2 linked regions of the Homo sapiens genome follow. The protein of the gene in region 2 interacts with the protein of the main gene of each other region in a pairwise test. Each region holds a gene or a part of one and is shown on either strand. Other genes may lie near its edges.

Evidence for each region. Proteins that work in one complex are often made in the same cells at the same time.
Region 1: the proteins of PRMT8 (region 2) and TNPO2 interact in binary tests that used the Homo sapiens proteins (3 or more experiments, as listed by UniProt).

Annotation. Positions count from the first base shown.
Region 1 is NC_000019.10:12,720,933-12,728,135, forward strand, and holds the start of TNPO2 (transportin-2), read right to left. Parts: upstream 3,001-7,203; 5' UTR 2,837-3,000; intron 2,434-2,836; 5' UTR 2,317-2,433; intron 1,629-2,316; exon of another isoform or gene 1,545-1,628; intron 1,328-1,544; exon of another isoform or gene 1,202-1,327; intron 59-1,201; 5' UTR 46-58; coding exon 1-45. UniProt on the Homo sapiens protein: Probably functions in nuclear protein import as nuclear transport receptor. Serves as receptor for nuclear localization signals (NLS) in cargo substrates.
Region 2 is NC_000012.12:3,585,008-3,592,476, reverse strand, and holds part of PRMT8 (protein arginine N-methyltransferase 8), read right to left. Parts: intron 247-7,469; coding exon 125-246; intron 1-124. UniProt on the Homo sapiens protein: S-adenosyl-L-methionine-dependent and membrane-associated arginine methyltransferase that can both catalyze the formation of omega-N monomethylarginine (MMA) and asymmetrical dimethylarginine (aDMA) in proteins such as NIFK, myelin basic protein, histone H4, H2A and H2A/H2B dimer.

The DNA of each region.
Region 1 (7,203 bases), on a different chromosome or scaffold from region 2:
CTGCAGGACCTGCTGCAGGCCCTGCTCGTCTGGCTGCCAGTCCATGGCGCAAGGCAAGCTGCGGAGGTAGGGGCCGGGGTCAGCGCTGGGTCTCTGGGGCTCCGTGTGAGACCCAGGTGGAGCCCCTGAGGCCGCGGTGGCCGCATGACGACGGGAACGCCCTCGGCGGACAGGCGGAGGCCTCCGATCCACGCCCGCCCAAGTGCGGGGTCCCCGCCAGCTGCGCCATCCTCGGCCGCGCAGTCGCGGGCTCGGGAGCGCGGGAGGGGGGATGTGGAAACGGGCCACAGGCGGCGGCGGCGGGGCCCGGCGGATCCTCATGGGACCCAGCGAAGAGCCCTCGTCCCAGGGTGGCCCATGCCGCTGACCCCGGCTCCGAGCCCGAAGGCTTCCACCTCCCTCGCAGCGGCTGGGCGAGGGCCCAGCCGCCTCCACATCCAGGGGCCCCGCCCCAGACCGTGATAGCGCCCCGGCCCCCGTGGTCTCTTCTATGCAGGCACAGTCCCTGAAGAGTCCCCTTCCCCCGACACTCTGCCCTTAACTTCTGCCAGATCCCAGAGGCCTCCTGCCCTAGTCCAATTTCTGAGCTTCCCCAGATGCGCCCTCCCAAGACGATCGTCCTGATCTCTCCTGTCCCCTGTTCCTGCCCTTCAAGCTCAGTGGATGCCAGATATCCCCCTCTGTGGCCTAGCCAAATTCTAAGGATTCCCCTTAATCAGGCCCAAAGCAGTCCCCAGGTAGGTCTCTGCTGCCTCTTCGAATGAGAGCCAGCCAAGCCCGGCCAACCCACTATAGGAGCCCCCTGGACCGATCCCAGTCGCCTTCCCCAATCAGGTCTGGCCAAGCCTCTCCCTGAAATTCCCTCCGACCCTGTCAGCAGTAACCCCTGCTGACGGATCTCTGTTGCCTCTCCCAGTCAAGTTCGGCCGAGCCCCCCACCACCTCGTGTCAGTAACCCCCTGGTCCGATCCTTGCAGCCTCCCCCAGTTCGGCCTGGGTAAACACCCCCCGGGGCATTCCCCTCAACGGATCCCAGCAACGCCTCGAAGTCAGATCCAAGAAAACCCTCTAGGCCGAAGTCTGACGCCCCTCCCTGTCAGGACCCAACGAGCTCCCCTCCCCCCACCCCGCTCAACTTTTCAGTGCGGCCTCCCCCAATCAGACCCAACCAAGCCCCACCGAAACAGGCCCCTACACACACCCGATCCTCGCGACGTCCCCCAATCAGGCCCCAAGCAGTCCCCAGACGCTTCCCCCAATCAGATCCCCTCCAGCCCGACCCCAGCAGTCCCACTGGCCCTCTTCTTGAGGAGCCCCGACATGGCCTGGCTCCGAGGCCCCACCCCCTAAGCTCTGCTCGGTTCCCCCCTCCCCCGCCCGGCCCGTTCTAGCTGCCAGGAGGATCGGGCCCAACCGGCTTCCCGGCCTTTCCCGGTCGGGCGCGGCCCCGACGCCCGGGCCGCGCGCGGCGCAGGCTCGGTGCCCGGCGGGGGTCGACGCAAGCCGGGGCCAAGAGGGTCGGGCTCTGAGTGAGGCCCACTTACCCGGCCCCGGGCAGCAGCGGCGGCAACTCGCGCTGCGGCTTCTCCAGAGACTCGCGCGGAAGGAGGGAGCCAAAGAGAGAGAATTAAAAAAAAAAAAAAAAAAAAAAAAGAAAGAAAGAAAAAAAAAAAAGAAAAACGCGGCCGTAGGTGAGCCGCCGCGGCTCCCGTACTCCGTTCAAACTGGTCCCGCCGAGCCAATCGGAAGGTTCAACCTTCACACGTGCCCTGGCACTTGGGAAACCCGGGCTGAGACAAGGTCCGGTCACGTGACCAAAGAGTTGCCGTTTCTTTGGCCTCTCTAGCCAGCCGGTCCTCCCAGTGTCTCGTTTTCCCAGCATCTTTCACTGACCTGACCGCAAGCTCTTTAGCTGGAGCCAGGAGTTTGGTAGCGCGTGGGGACTTTGTGTGTGATGGATCCAGGAACCCCTCGGCCAGAGCCAGCACCCTCCTTGTCACCTTCCTCCACTAAAAATTGAAATGTGCCTCCCTTCCCCCATCCAGAGGTACTTGGGAGGAGTACGCTGTGTGTGCGCAAGGAAAGAGCTGAGCGTGCTCTTTATACCCCAGAGACAAAGGAAAGAAAGCAGGACAAAGTAAGTGCCTGAGACAAGCCGGGTTCCTACAGAAGCCTCTGCCACTTTTTGCATTATTTTCCAGTACTGTTTGATAGTTTTTACAAGGAGATGAAAAAGCCACAAGGATATAAATTTTTGAATAAAACGAAATGAACTAATAAAATAAACTTTGAACCACGCCTAATCCCTTTCCCTACCTGAAGTTGAATGAGGTGGAACAGCGCAGGAAATTCTGGCAAGGGCAGGGTCATGAAGAAAGAAATCTTCTTGATCCTTGCGACGTCTGAAGACAGTAGGGCACCGTTTTTCCTTCTCTTGAGAGAGGAGCAGATGGTAAAAAGCTGGAGACCCTGTAGCGTCTTGGTTTCCCCTCCCTGCCCTGCCGATAACAAAGTGGGAGACCTCCTGCCACTTGAAGCCTCAGTTTCCCCACTTGTCAAATGGGTATAAGAGCAGTTCGCGCGATTAGAGATCATCCAAGTTAAGCATGACCTGGCCAGCTCTGAATTGTTCCTTAAAAACGTGGCTTTACCCTCCAAGGCTCAAGGCTGTTCTTTTACTGTATTCAGCCCCTCCCTAAGCCGATATTTAATGAATTCACCAGCTCTAATCCCAAAGAACAACCCACCCTGCCCTGAGGAACTTTTTGACCCTCGAGAGAGGCAGAGGTCAATTTTTGCCCCTGCCTGAAGGAGGGGAACAGCTATCTCAACCCACTTGCCGTAGGCAAAGTCAGTCCCGGCTCCGTTCATTCATGAAAATCAAGTCCCGGGCCTCCAAGGTTAGGGAAGTGTCGGCAGGCGCCTAACTCCACTCGGAGAATCGCGGAAGACACCCTAAAGGAGCAGTTGGGATTCCGAGGTAGCCAGTTCCGCTGGACTGAAACCTGGGCTGAGAAACACGTGCAGAAAGCCGCCACCAAGGCATGCGTAAAGGCCTCCCTCTCCCCCACCCTCCGATAAGCCCTGGAACTACAAATCCCGTCCTGCCATGCGCCAGGGTCGCCGCGCTTTGGGGTTTTGGCTGAGACTCAAATTGGCAGGAGGGTCTCTAGACCAACCGAGGTGCATGGGGAGCAGAAGAGTGAGACTGGGGAGCTGGGGCTGGATTTGGGGGTTCCTGGAGCGAGTGTGAACGATAAGAGCTTTCTGGTCAAATTTGGGGGCTGCCCCAGATAAAGATCAGATGGGGAGCGAGTTTGGGATGCAGGAGACAATTTGTTAAGGTTCACCCCCTTCATATAATATGGCAAATTTTCAGCGGCCCTCCGCAAGCCTTGGGGCAGAACAAAGTAGCCCCTGCTGCATGTGTGGTCCACATTGTTGGCCCTTGTGTGGTCACGGAATTTTTTCTTCCTCTCCAGCTGGTGAATTTGAGTGTTGAATCAGGACAAGGTTTTGGGTTTTTGTTGTTTTGTTGTTTTTGTTTTTCTATTTCTTTGTTTTGTTTTGTTTTGTTTTTGAGACGGAGTCTCGCTCTGTTACAAGGCTGAAGTGCAGTGGCGCGATCTCAGCTCATTGTAACCTCCGCCTCCCGGGTTCAAGCGATTCTCCTGCCTCAGCCTCCCGAGTAGCTGGGATTACAGGCATGCGCCACCACGCCCGGCTAATTTTTTTTAATAGAGATGGGGTTTCACAATGTTGACCAGGATGGTCTTGATTTCTTGACCTCATGATCTGCCTGCCTTGGCCTCCCAAAGTGTTGGGATTACAGGCGTGAGCCACCGCGCCTGGCTTTTTTTGTTTTTTTGTTTTTTGAGATGGTGTCTTGCTCTCATTGTCCCGGCTGAAGTGCAATGGCTCAATCTCGGCTCACTGCAACCTCCGCCCCCGGATTCAAGCGATTCTCCTGCCTCAGCCTTCCGAGTAGCTGGAATTACAGGCGCCTGCCACCACGCCAGGCTAATTTTTTGCATTTTTAATAGAGATGGGGTTTTGCCATGTTGGCCAGGCTGGTCTTGAACTCCTGACCTCAGGTGATCCACCTGCCTCGACCTCCCAAAGTGCTGGGATTACTGTGCCCGGCCCAGTTTTCCTATTTCTTTCTTTCTTTCTTTTTTTTTTTTTTTTTTTTTTTTTTTTTTTTTTTTTGAGACACTGTCTTGCCCTGTCGCCCAGGCTGGAGTGCAATGGTGGGATCTCAGCTCATTGCAACCTCCGCCTCCGGGATTCAAGCTATTCTGCCTCAGCCTCCCGAGTACCTGGGACTACAGGCACCCGCCACCACACCCAGCTAATTTTTGTATTTTTAGTAGAAACAGGGTTTCACCATATTGGCGAGGCTGATCTTGAACTCCTGACCTTGTGATCTGCCCGCCTTGGCCTCCCAAAAAGTGCTGGGATTACAGGTGTGAGCCACCGTGCCTGGCCTTTTTTCCTTTTTTTTTTTTTTTTTTATTTTGAGGTGGAGTTTTGCTCTTGTTGCCCAGGCTGGAGTGCAATGGTGCAATTTCGGCTCACCACAACCTCTGCCTCCCGGGTTCAAGTGATTCTCCTGCCTCAGCCTCGCGAGTAGCTGGGATTACAGGCATGTGCTACCACGCCCTGCTAATTTTGTATTTTTAGTAGAGACCGGGTTTCTCCATGTTGGTCAGGCTGGTCTCGAATTCCCGACCTCAGGTGATCCACCTGCCTTGGCCTCCCCAAGTGCTGGTATTACAGGCATGAGCCACCATGCCTGGCCTTTTTTCCTATTTCTTAAGCACCTACTGCATGTCAAGTGGTTTCCAAATGTTATCTCATTAATACCGGATGTGGTGGCTCATGCCTGTAATCTCAGCACTTTGGGAGGCCGAGGGCAGATCACGAGGTCAGGAGATTGAGACCATCTTCTGGCTAACACAGTGAAACCCTGTCTCTACTAAAAATACAAAAAAATTAGCCAGGAGTGGTGGCCTGCGCTTATAATCCCAGCTACTCAGGAGGCTGAGGCAGGAGAATCGCTTGAACACGGGAGGCGGAGGTTGCAGTGAGCCAAGATCACACCACTTCACTCCAGCCTGGGCGACAGAGCGAGACTCTGTCTCAAAAAAAAAAAAAAAAAAAAAAAAGGCCAAATGTTATCTCATGCAAATCTCACAACAGCCCTATGCCTGGCAAACTTACCCTAGTTCAATTAGAAGCTCTCTGTGCCAAAAGAAACTCACAGAATTGGTGTCCAACCAGCCGGGCGCGGTGGCTCACGTTCATGCCTGTAATCCCAGCATTTTGGGAGGCCGAGGCGGGCAGATCACAAGGTCAGGAGATCAAGACCATCCTGGCTAACACGGTGAAACCCTGTCTCTACTAAAAATACAAAAAAAAATAGCCAGGCGTGGTGGCGACCGCCTGTAGTCCCAGCTACTCGGAAGGCTGAGGCAGGAGAATGGCGTGAACCCAGGAGGCGCAGCTTGCAGTGAGCCAAGATCGCGCCACTGCACTCCAGCCTAGGCGACAGAGCGAGACTCTGTCTCAAAAAAAAAAAAAAAAGAATTGGTGTCCAACCGCGAATCTGAAATGTGAGACAAACGTGTTCTCAATTTACAGCAGCCTCCCTTCCCAAGCCTCTCATCACACTGTCCCCCGAGTTCAAAGGTCAGCACTTCAACTAACTTAACACAGTCCCCAAACGCAAGCCAACTTCTTCACCCTGGAAAGCACTAGCTGTTTTAAACAATGGCAGGGTTAGATTCTATGAATATTGCCCTTACTTTAGAACTTGACTCTAGAGATGCTTCTTTATTTTACCCCTATTTGATAGATGAAGAACCTGAAGTACAGAAAAGCTAAGTGACTTACCCAAGATCACACAGTCAACAGGCACTAGAATAGTCAGAAGCCAGGGCTGTGTGACTCACCAAAACCTGGATATGATTCTCCTCCCTCTTCAGACTTTTCTCAGGTCAGAGCAGGTAAGTACTGTAAAGGGATGTGCCTGGACTTTCAGCCTCTCCTGCCTCTTGACACTAGAATAGAGGCTGAGATGCTGCAGGGCGACCTACTTCCCAGGCTTCTGTTGCTTTTTAAAGATCCAGTCTCTGCTGGTGGCTTTGGGGGAGGAGGAGGTAGGGATGGCTCCATTAGCTTCCTGTGTTCCCTCCCCCCATACTCCACCCCCAAGGCCAAAGTCACACCTGGGCTAGCTTAGCATCCCCAAAGTAGGAGGGAGAGACCTTTCAGCCCACATGCAAAGTAAAGCAGAAAAACCTTATTGTGTGTTAGCAGGAAGCGAAAGAGGAAAGGTATCCTATTCTTTTTTTTTTTTTTAATTTTTTGAGATGGAGTCTCACTCTGTTGCCCAGGCTGGAGTGTAGTCACTGCAACCTCTGCCTCCCCAGTTCAAGCGATTCTCCTGCCTCAGCCTCCCAAGTAGCTGGGATTACAGGCGTGGGCCACCACCCCCAGCTAATTTTTGTATTTTTAGTAGATAGGGTTTCACCATGTTGGTCAGGCTGGTCTTGAACTCCTGACCTTGTGATCTGCCCGCCTTGGCCTCCCAAAGTGCTGAGATTATAGGCGTGAGCCACCACGACAGCTAGGCTGTTTGTTTTTTTTTTTTTTGAGACGGAATCTCACTTTGTTGCCCGGGCTGAAGTATAGTGGCACAATCTTGGCTCACTGCAACCTTTGCCTTCTCAGATTCAGGACATTCTCCTGCCTCAGCCTCCCGAATAGCTGGTATTACAGGTGCGCGCCACCACGCCCGGCTAATTTTTTGTATTTTTAGTAGAGACAGGGTTGCACCACATTGGCCAGGCTGGTCTCGAACTCCTGGCCTCAAGTGATCCTTCTGCCTCAGCCTCCCAAAGTGGTGAGATTACAGGCGTGAGCCACCACGCCCAGCCAACTTTTATTTTTTGTAGCAAGAAAGGTCTTGCTGTGTTGTCCAGGCTGGTCTCGAACTCCTGGGCTCAAGTGATCCACCTGTGTCTCGGCCTCCCCAGTCACTGGGATTACAGATGTGAGCCACCATTCTTGGCAGGGCAGGGTTTTTGTCTGTTTAGGTAGCTGACTTCACATAGCAGATGCTCATCATTTGTTACATGAGTCAGTGCTCCACCCCAACCTGCACAGACTGCATCTGGCAAAATCTGAGAGCCTGTGGTG
Region 2 (7,469 bases):
ACTGCCTGCCTCAGTAAGTTTCTGACTGTTCATGAGACACTTAAGAACCCGGGCAAGTGGGTCCTGAGCGAGCCAGCTCTGTGGGGCCCTTCTCCCTTATGTCCTTATGTCCCTCGGCACTTACCACATTTTTGGCATTTGGCTTCATGGATATGGTCCCGTAGATTTCCTCCCCCCTCCGGACAGTGAGGTAATCTTCCAAGTAGAAGACGGTCTGCTTCCAGTGGGTGTAGGGAGCATCAGGGGCTGAGGGGTGAGAGAACAGGGGAGGTGGGAAGAAAGAGTCAGAGACGAAGTCTCCAAAGGGATGAGGCTGGGACCCTGCATAGAAGTTGCTGGGCTTCCCCTGGGACTCACTGAAACCACCCACCCCAGTACTCTTGTTGGGTCAGGTGCATAGTCCTTATAGCCTTCCTCCAAGCCCCATCAGAACTCCCTCTCAGTCCCAGTGGCCTCTCCTCCCATCACATCCCCATCTCCTCAGTGCTGGGGATCAGAAGACAAACAACCCGATACTACAAGTTCATAGCAAGGGATGGATGAGGAATACCCTGTCACCCACTAAATGCATGGACATACATGCATCTGAACATGCTGCTGTTTTTAATTAGTTCAACAGAATGAAGATCTTCAGACAGTATGGGGAAGAGATTTGTAGAGTAGGCCCTCCTATCTCCCCTTAAATGACATCATTCATGCAAACTCCACAGCTAAACCAGTTTCCCCAGATCCACTGATATGGCAGGTACTTGGTCCTCAATCTTACAACTAGCTTTTCCTGCTGGGCACACATAGTGGCTCATAGCTGTAACCTCAGCTACTCAGGAAGCTGAGGCAGGAGGACTGGTTGAGCCCAGGAGTTCAAGACCAGCCTGGGCAACATAATGAGAAAACTAGGCGAGTGTGGTAGCACACATCTGTGGTCCCAGCTACTCAGGAGGCTGAAGCAGGAGGATGCATTGAGCCTGGGAGTTCAAGGTTGCAGTGAGCTGTGACTATACCACTGCACTCTAGCCTGGGTGCAAACCAGTGAGTGAGACCCTGTCTCAAAAAAAAAAAAAAAAAAAAAGAGCTTTCCCTGCCTGCTTCTCTGTGCACGGGGAACTAAACCTAGCACCTTGGCCCAGACCTGCTGTAGGGTTTCAGGTGTATCTTCCTAACCAGATCAGAAAGAAATGAGGGATGGTTCTTGTTCCACAGCCCTAATGCTGGCCCACAGCTCATTCATCCTGTATGACCCAAAGCCATAGTGGTACTTGCGCCTCCCCCATATCTGCCATTGAGTCTCTTCCCTCCCCTCTCAGCACACGATATATTCTCCAGTTAAATGTGAGGAGTTCTGCCTCAGAGGCCACCGTCCTTGCCAGCAGCTGTCTCTGAAATCCTTCCTCTCCCTCCTTTCCAGCCTCTCTCTTCCTCATCCTTCCTCTGGGAAGCCTTGCCTGACCCGCAAAACCTGGACTGAGAGCTCCCAAGGCACCCTGAGCTCCTGTTATTGCGGTGCCTGTCACACAAGATAAATGCCTTCCCCCCATCCCCGTTTGTCTGCATCCTCCATGGACTGCAAGCTCCATGAGGGCAGGGACCGGGCCAGCCTTGCTTCCTCGGTGCCTGCCTCTGTGCTTGGTAGATCTACGAGTATTGAATAAATGAATGATGGTAAGAACCCAAAGAGCAAATGTCTGTAGTGCTTCAATGTACTCGTACTGGAGTTCAATGTACTCCAGTTACCCTGGGGGCCTTTGGAATCTACAGACTGCAGAAGAACCCATCTTATTACAGGAAGTTCCTCTTGGTTTGGGCTGTTGCATTCCTCTACCAGGATTTCTTTTTTTTTTTTTTTTAGGACTAAGGATAAAGATGAGAAGACTTGGGGATAAGATAAGGGTCTTCAAAACACTTCAAAAGCTGTCACATGGAAAGACTTACATGTGGCCTTATCATGGCTTTGGGGGCAGAACAAAGGCTAGTCACTAGGCATGATTAGAAGGCAGATTTTTAATTTACCAAGAATTAGAGCTGTCCCACAATCATATGAGCCACCTGAGGTCCACCCTGGCAGGTGTTCACACAGCGCCAACTGGGGCTTGATCATGCACTGACTCAGACCAGGTGACCTCTAAGAGCTTTCAAAACCCCAAGGCCAATTTTAACAGCACTGAAGAGTCTGTCTTTCTCTGCCCTTCACAATGAACTGGCTTGATCAAATGTCAGTGGTTTGGAGAGAGACTCAAGTAGCCCTCCGTGTGTGCATTTGGGAAATCGATGCAAACTCAAGGTCATGGGGAGAAAGTGCAGCCTGCACATTTGGAAAGGGAAGGAGGATCATGAATGTGCAGTCTATCCCTTTCAGACCCTGCCTGGGTTCCTGAACACATCCAGCCTTTCTGGCCTTCAGGGCATACTGCTGTCTGCAGACAAAGTCCACCTGCTCCCAACAACCATCTCTCCCAGCTACCTCTAAATAGTCAAAAGATAGTTCCTGGTTATGTGTGGAGACTGTCAGTGTATGACTGACAGCACTCTCGCCCCCACTTCCACCTACACCAGCTCAGACAGGTGTCTCTCTCCTGTTCCTAAAGACCTTCAGGCAAAGGGATTTCAAGCAGCCTCCTTCTGTCACCTAATCCGATGCCTTATGAGACCCCCAGAGACTTCCTGGCCCAGATTTGTCAGCCATGGGGTCTGCCTCTGATGGTAGTCCCCAAAACATGCCGACTTTGAGTTGGAGGAAGATGATTATTTTCCTTGATATCAACATCAAAGGGTTAAGAACATCCATAAACATCTCGTTTCCATGATGGGCCCATTAGCCATGGAGTAATTGTCTAAACCAGTTTTCCCAATCCTGATTCTCCATCAAAGTGCCCAGGAGAAGCTGAGTAAAAGTCAATGTTTTGATTCTACTCCAAGAGATTTGAAGTCAGTAATTCTGGGGGGCGTGGAGGGGCAGGTGACGTAGACACACAGCCATGGCTGAATCGCAGTGCATCTCCTGACCTCCTTTGGGAAGGTAGAGTGGGAAAGACATTAATTAGGTGACAATAGCCCCGTGTCCAGTGTCCACTTTGCCACTGACATGCGATGTGACCTGGGGCTCCTTTTCCACATCTGCAGAATATGGCTCATGATATTCACCTCCTGACGTATTGTGAGGATGAGATGAGATGAGAAAGGGAAAGGATCATAGACTAAGGGTGATCAAACCTCCTGCTGTGCCTGGGACAGTTCCAGTTCACATCTGTTTTCCTGGCATAATGATTAATAGGTCTCCCTTTCACCTGCATACGTGTCCTTAATGGAAAGATGCGTTACATGGCCACCCTACCTAAAACATATTAGGCCCATGTTAGGGACTTACTAAGCCATTGCATCAGGCAAGTCTTTGGTCATTAGAGTGGTATATGATTTTATTAGTCCATCAACTATGGCTCTGGTCTGCAAAGATATGCCGCCTCTCTCTACTGGTGGAGAATGTCTTGGAAAACATCCAGAATGTCACCGTGCACAAGGGTGGGCGCTCAGGAAAGGGTTGTGGACAACATCTAGAGTTCTCCTTGTCAGGGAGGAAAGCTTTCCCTTCCCCTGCCCCAACCCCATCTATGACCATCCAGATTGTACAACTGGCTTTCAGCCTTCCCCATTCTGAAGATGCCTCCCTGCTCTTAGCATTCTGGCCCCACATACCCCTTTTCTCCCTCCCACAGTTCCCTTCCCCATCACAGTCTCTCTGATTCTAGGCTTTAGGCAGCTTTTCTTCTACATTTTGAAGTGAGCATGACCAGTACTGCCTGCAGCATTCCTAGTGCAGTGCATTCATTCACCATTCCACAGACTTCCACTTAGGATGCCTGCCACAGGCCGGGTATGGCTGTAGAATTGGGGAACAGCAAACGGGATGAACACCACTTTGTCCCCTCCTCCCCCGATCATACAGCCTCAGTGAGAAGACATTCAGGCAAATAGTGAGAAGTAGGGTGGGCACTATGACCAAGGATGGGGCTTGGGAACACAGGGAGCTGAGGGTACAAATGGCAGGGACTGGCCTCTCACCAGAGTTTTCCTGGTGCTTTTGGAAAGGGAATGGAATCCTGCTTCCCATCTCACTGACCAATGGCTAAGTGGCTGGTCGTCCTTTCTGGGATATAATTTTTCTAGCTGTAAGTTTGGAATTATATTCTCTAGAGAATTCATAGGCCTTTTGGAGAATTGAGGACTATGCACCAAGAAGCTTCTTTAATGTGGGAAAATGACTCAATGTCACAGGATGTCAATGGCAGAAAGGAGCTGCCTGAGCCCAAGGCGCAGAAAGTAAACTTGCCCAAAGTCCTTTCCAATGTCTGATCTGCCTACCTTGCTGATACCTGAAAAAACCAGGGCTTGCACCCAGGCCTGCTTCTGCTGGGGCTCCTGCCCTTCCACCTGCTACCTGGCTTTCCTGGATTACACAGCAGCCCCAGGGGCCCCAGTTCCCACTTCTACCCCCACCCCACTGAGGATGTGTTGTGGTGGGGGGGGCACCGTGCCCACTGGCTGCCACAGCCTGGAACCCTGGCTGTCTGTGCCTATTTGTGACAGCTTCTGCCTGGAGCTGCAGAGACGTCAGAGTCATTAGAAGGGATCATTTTTCAGGCTGTGCGGTATGGGATGTGTTTCTAAGTGGCCCGCAGAGCGCGCTACCACTGGGCTGAGAACAGAAGACTCAGTTGGGGGTTGATGCAGAGGGACCACACACAGCAGGCTACACTTTGCATCAAGTTCAAAAACAGCTGAGACCAAACAATACCTTGTTTAGGCACACACATCCATGTGATAAAACTTTTCATAAATAGCAAGGGAATAAGGAACACAAAATTCAGGATAATGTTCATCTGGAGGCGATACGGGAGGTGGGATGGGGTGGGGCATCCAGGAAGATGCAGAGGTGTTGGCAGCATTTCAGTCATTGAGTCAGGGCATAGCTCGAATCAATAAGTGTAAGCAAATTAATGCAAATATGCATTAATTGATTTACATTTAATTATAATTATATTACAGTTATTACCATGTCTTTCTAGTCAATATTTATATTTTAGTTAAAAACAATTTATTTTTAATATTAACTAATGTATTTACCTTCTAATAGTAATACTAATAAATTTATTAGTATTTATTAATTTATTTTGTTAGTATTTATTAATTCATTCTAGTTACTATTTACATTCTAGTTAATAGTAATTAATTTATATTCTAGTTGCTGAGTTATGTGGTGAGTTCATGGATATTCATTATATTAATATATAATATAATTATATATAATTAATATATAAATTAGCAAAAAAAGTGAACCATGAATGGTCCAATAATGACATATGGCATGAGCCAAGAATTAGGATTAATCTAAGTCTGTGCATCTGAGATCCATAAAAACAGAAAGGGTTACTCGGTCAGTTGTCAGAATATAGATGGTCTGAGTATACCCCACTGCTAACCCACATGAACTGGGAAAGAAGTTTGCTACCTGCTAGAAACAGAGCCCCCACGCTGACACGCGAAGGTGGCTGAGAAAGCAACTCAACAAAGTATTCTCCCACCCCCATTGCTACCCATATAGGCATGTGCCAAGAAGAGGGATCTACGTCAGCCAGAAAGCAAAGAGTCTTGGTGAGGCCTGAGGGTATACCTGAGTGAGGAGATGGAATAGCCTTTCCAGAAGAAAGTCAACATTGGTCAAATTCTCAACCCTCTGGTTCAGGGCAGTCTTGCACAGAGGCAGTGGTCCTTAAGCTGGAGCATGCATCGCAATCACCTGGAGGTCTTGTTAAGACACAGACGGCTGGCCCCCACCCCCAGAGTTTCTGATTCAGGAGGTCCAGGGTGAGGCTCAAGAATTTGCAATTCTAACAATTTCCCAGGTGATACTGGTGTTACCCGTCCAGGAACCACACTTTGAGAACCACTTCCCCAAGGCATGACAAACTGGAGACTGTAGGACCTCCAAATGTCTTTCAGAACCTAAGTTTGTAGAATTCTGTGCAAAAGGGAGGAGGCATAACACTATAATTGCAAAAAGAGGAGTAGGCTCACAACTGGGTTTAGATCCTTGGTCTTTGAGCCACGTAGGACTGTGGTGGGGGTGTGACCAAAGACTAGGAAGGAAAGCCACTGGGTTAGAGCCTTCAACACTCAGGGCAAATCCTCGCCATCTTTCAGGCAGCCCAGAGCCGATGTCTTGATTCTGGATGTGAGCTTAATCCAGGCTCCTCCACATGGGACCATGAAGAATGTCATCCCTAACACCCCAGAGCCAGGGAGCCATCTCTAGACAGGGTCCAGCAGGCTGTCTGCTTGACTTTGGAGACTAGAAATATTAATAGATCATCTCAAGGAAAATAAAACTATGGCTGAGAGCTGCAGGGATAGAGCCTGGGGTTTGGAAACTTAGAACTTTTCCCAGAGCATCCTTGCCCATGGACTTTCTCATCAGCAGGGCAGGCTCTGGGTTAGACATCATCCTGGTGATGGAATAGGCAGAGCCAGCTCCTATGACTTCATCCTTAGCTTCCAATCACAGCCACTGTCCCCAAGAAGGCTCCTCCCCAGCTCCCTCACTACCCCTACTCTCACCATTGCTAGGCACAGTCTTCCCAATCCTTCAAGATCAAAGTAAAATCCACCTTCCCCCTCCTGGCTGCTCCTGCCCACTGGGAAGACATGTACTGCTCCTGTGAGGAGGGCAGCAGCTGATAATGACCCAGATCAGGGCAGGAAAGCACCAGCACTGCCTGGCTGACGGAGACCAAAAGTCCCAATCTTAGTAATCAGGAGGCACTGGTTCTGGGAAAAGCCTTTCTATGAAGAGATAAATCTGTCTCTTGCCCTCTCTTTCCATAGGTAAAAGAGAATCATTGAGACCAGCCTGGGCAATGAGGCAAGACCCCATCTCTACCAAAAAAAAAAAAAAATTAAAAAGTATCCAGGCATGGTGGCATGTGCCTGTAGTCCCAGCTACTTGGGTGGCTAAGGCAGGAGGATCGCTTGAGCCCAGGAGGTCAAGGCTGCAGTGAGCTATGATTGTGCCACTGCACTCCAGCCTGGGAGACAGAGTGAGACCTTGTCTCTGAGAAAAAAAAAAAAAAAAAAAAAAAAAAAGCATCATTTTCTTCATGGCTTCTGGAAGTAAAGAATCATGTCCTCGATTTCTGGTAGAACTCACCTTCCCACTCCCCCTACTAGACATACAACTACTCACCTCCTCACCCCCTGATGACATGCTCCCAATTCCCAGGAAGACTCAATAGGAACACATTCTTAAGGGCAGGGGTCATATCATCATACACTTCTTAGAGCAATTTGTTTAGAACTGTGCTTTAGAAGACAGGAATGCAGAGATCACTGAGATATGATCCCTACTCATGCAGGAGACTGACAGTTGCAAGAAAGGGTGAAAATGCTGAATAAATAATGGCAAGCCCTGTGTTGGAATCCTG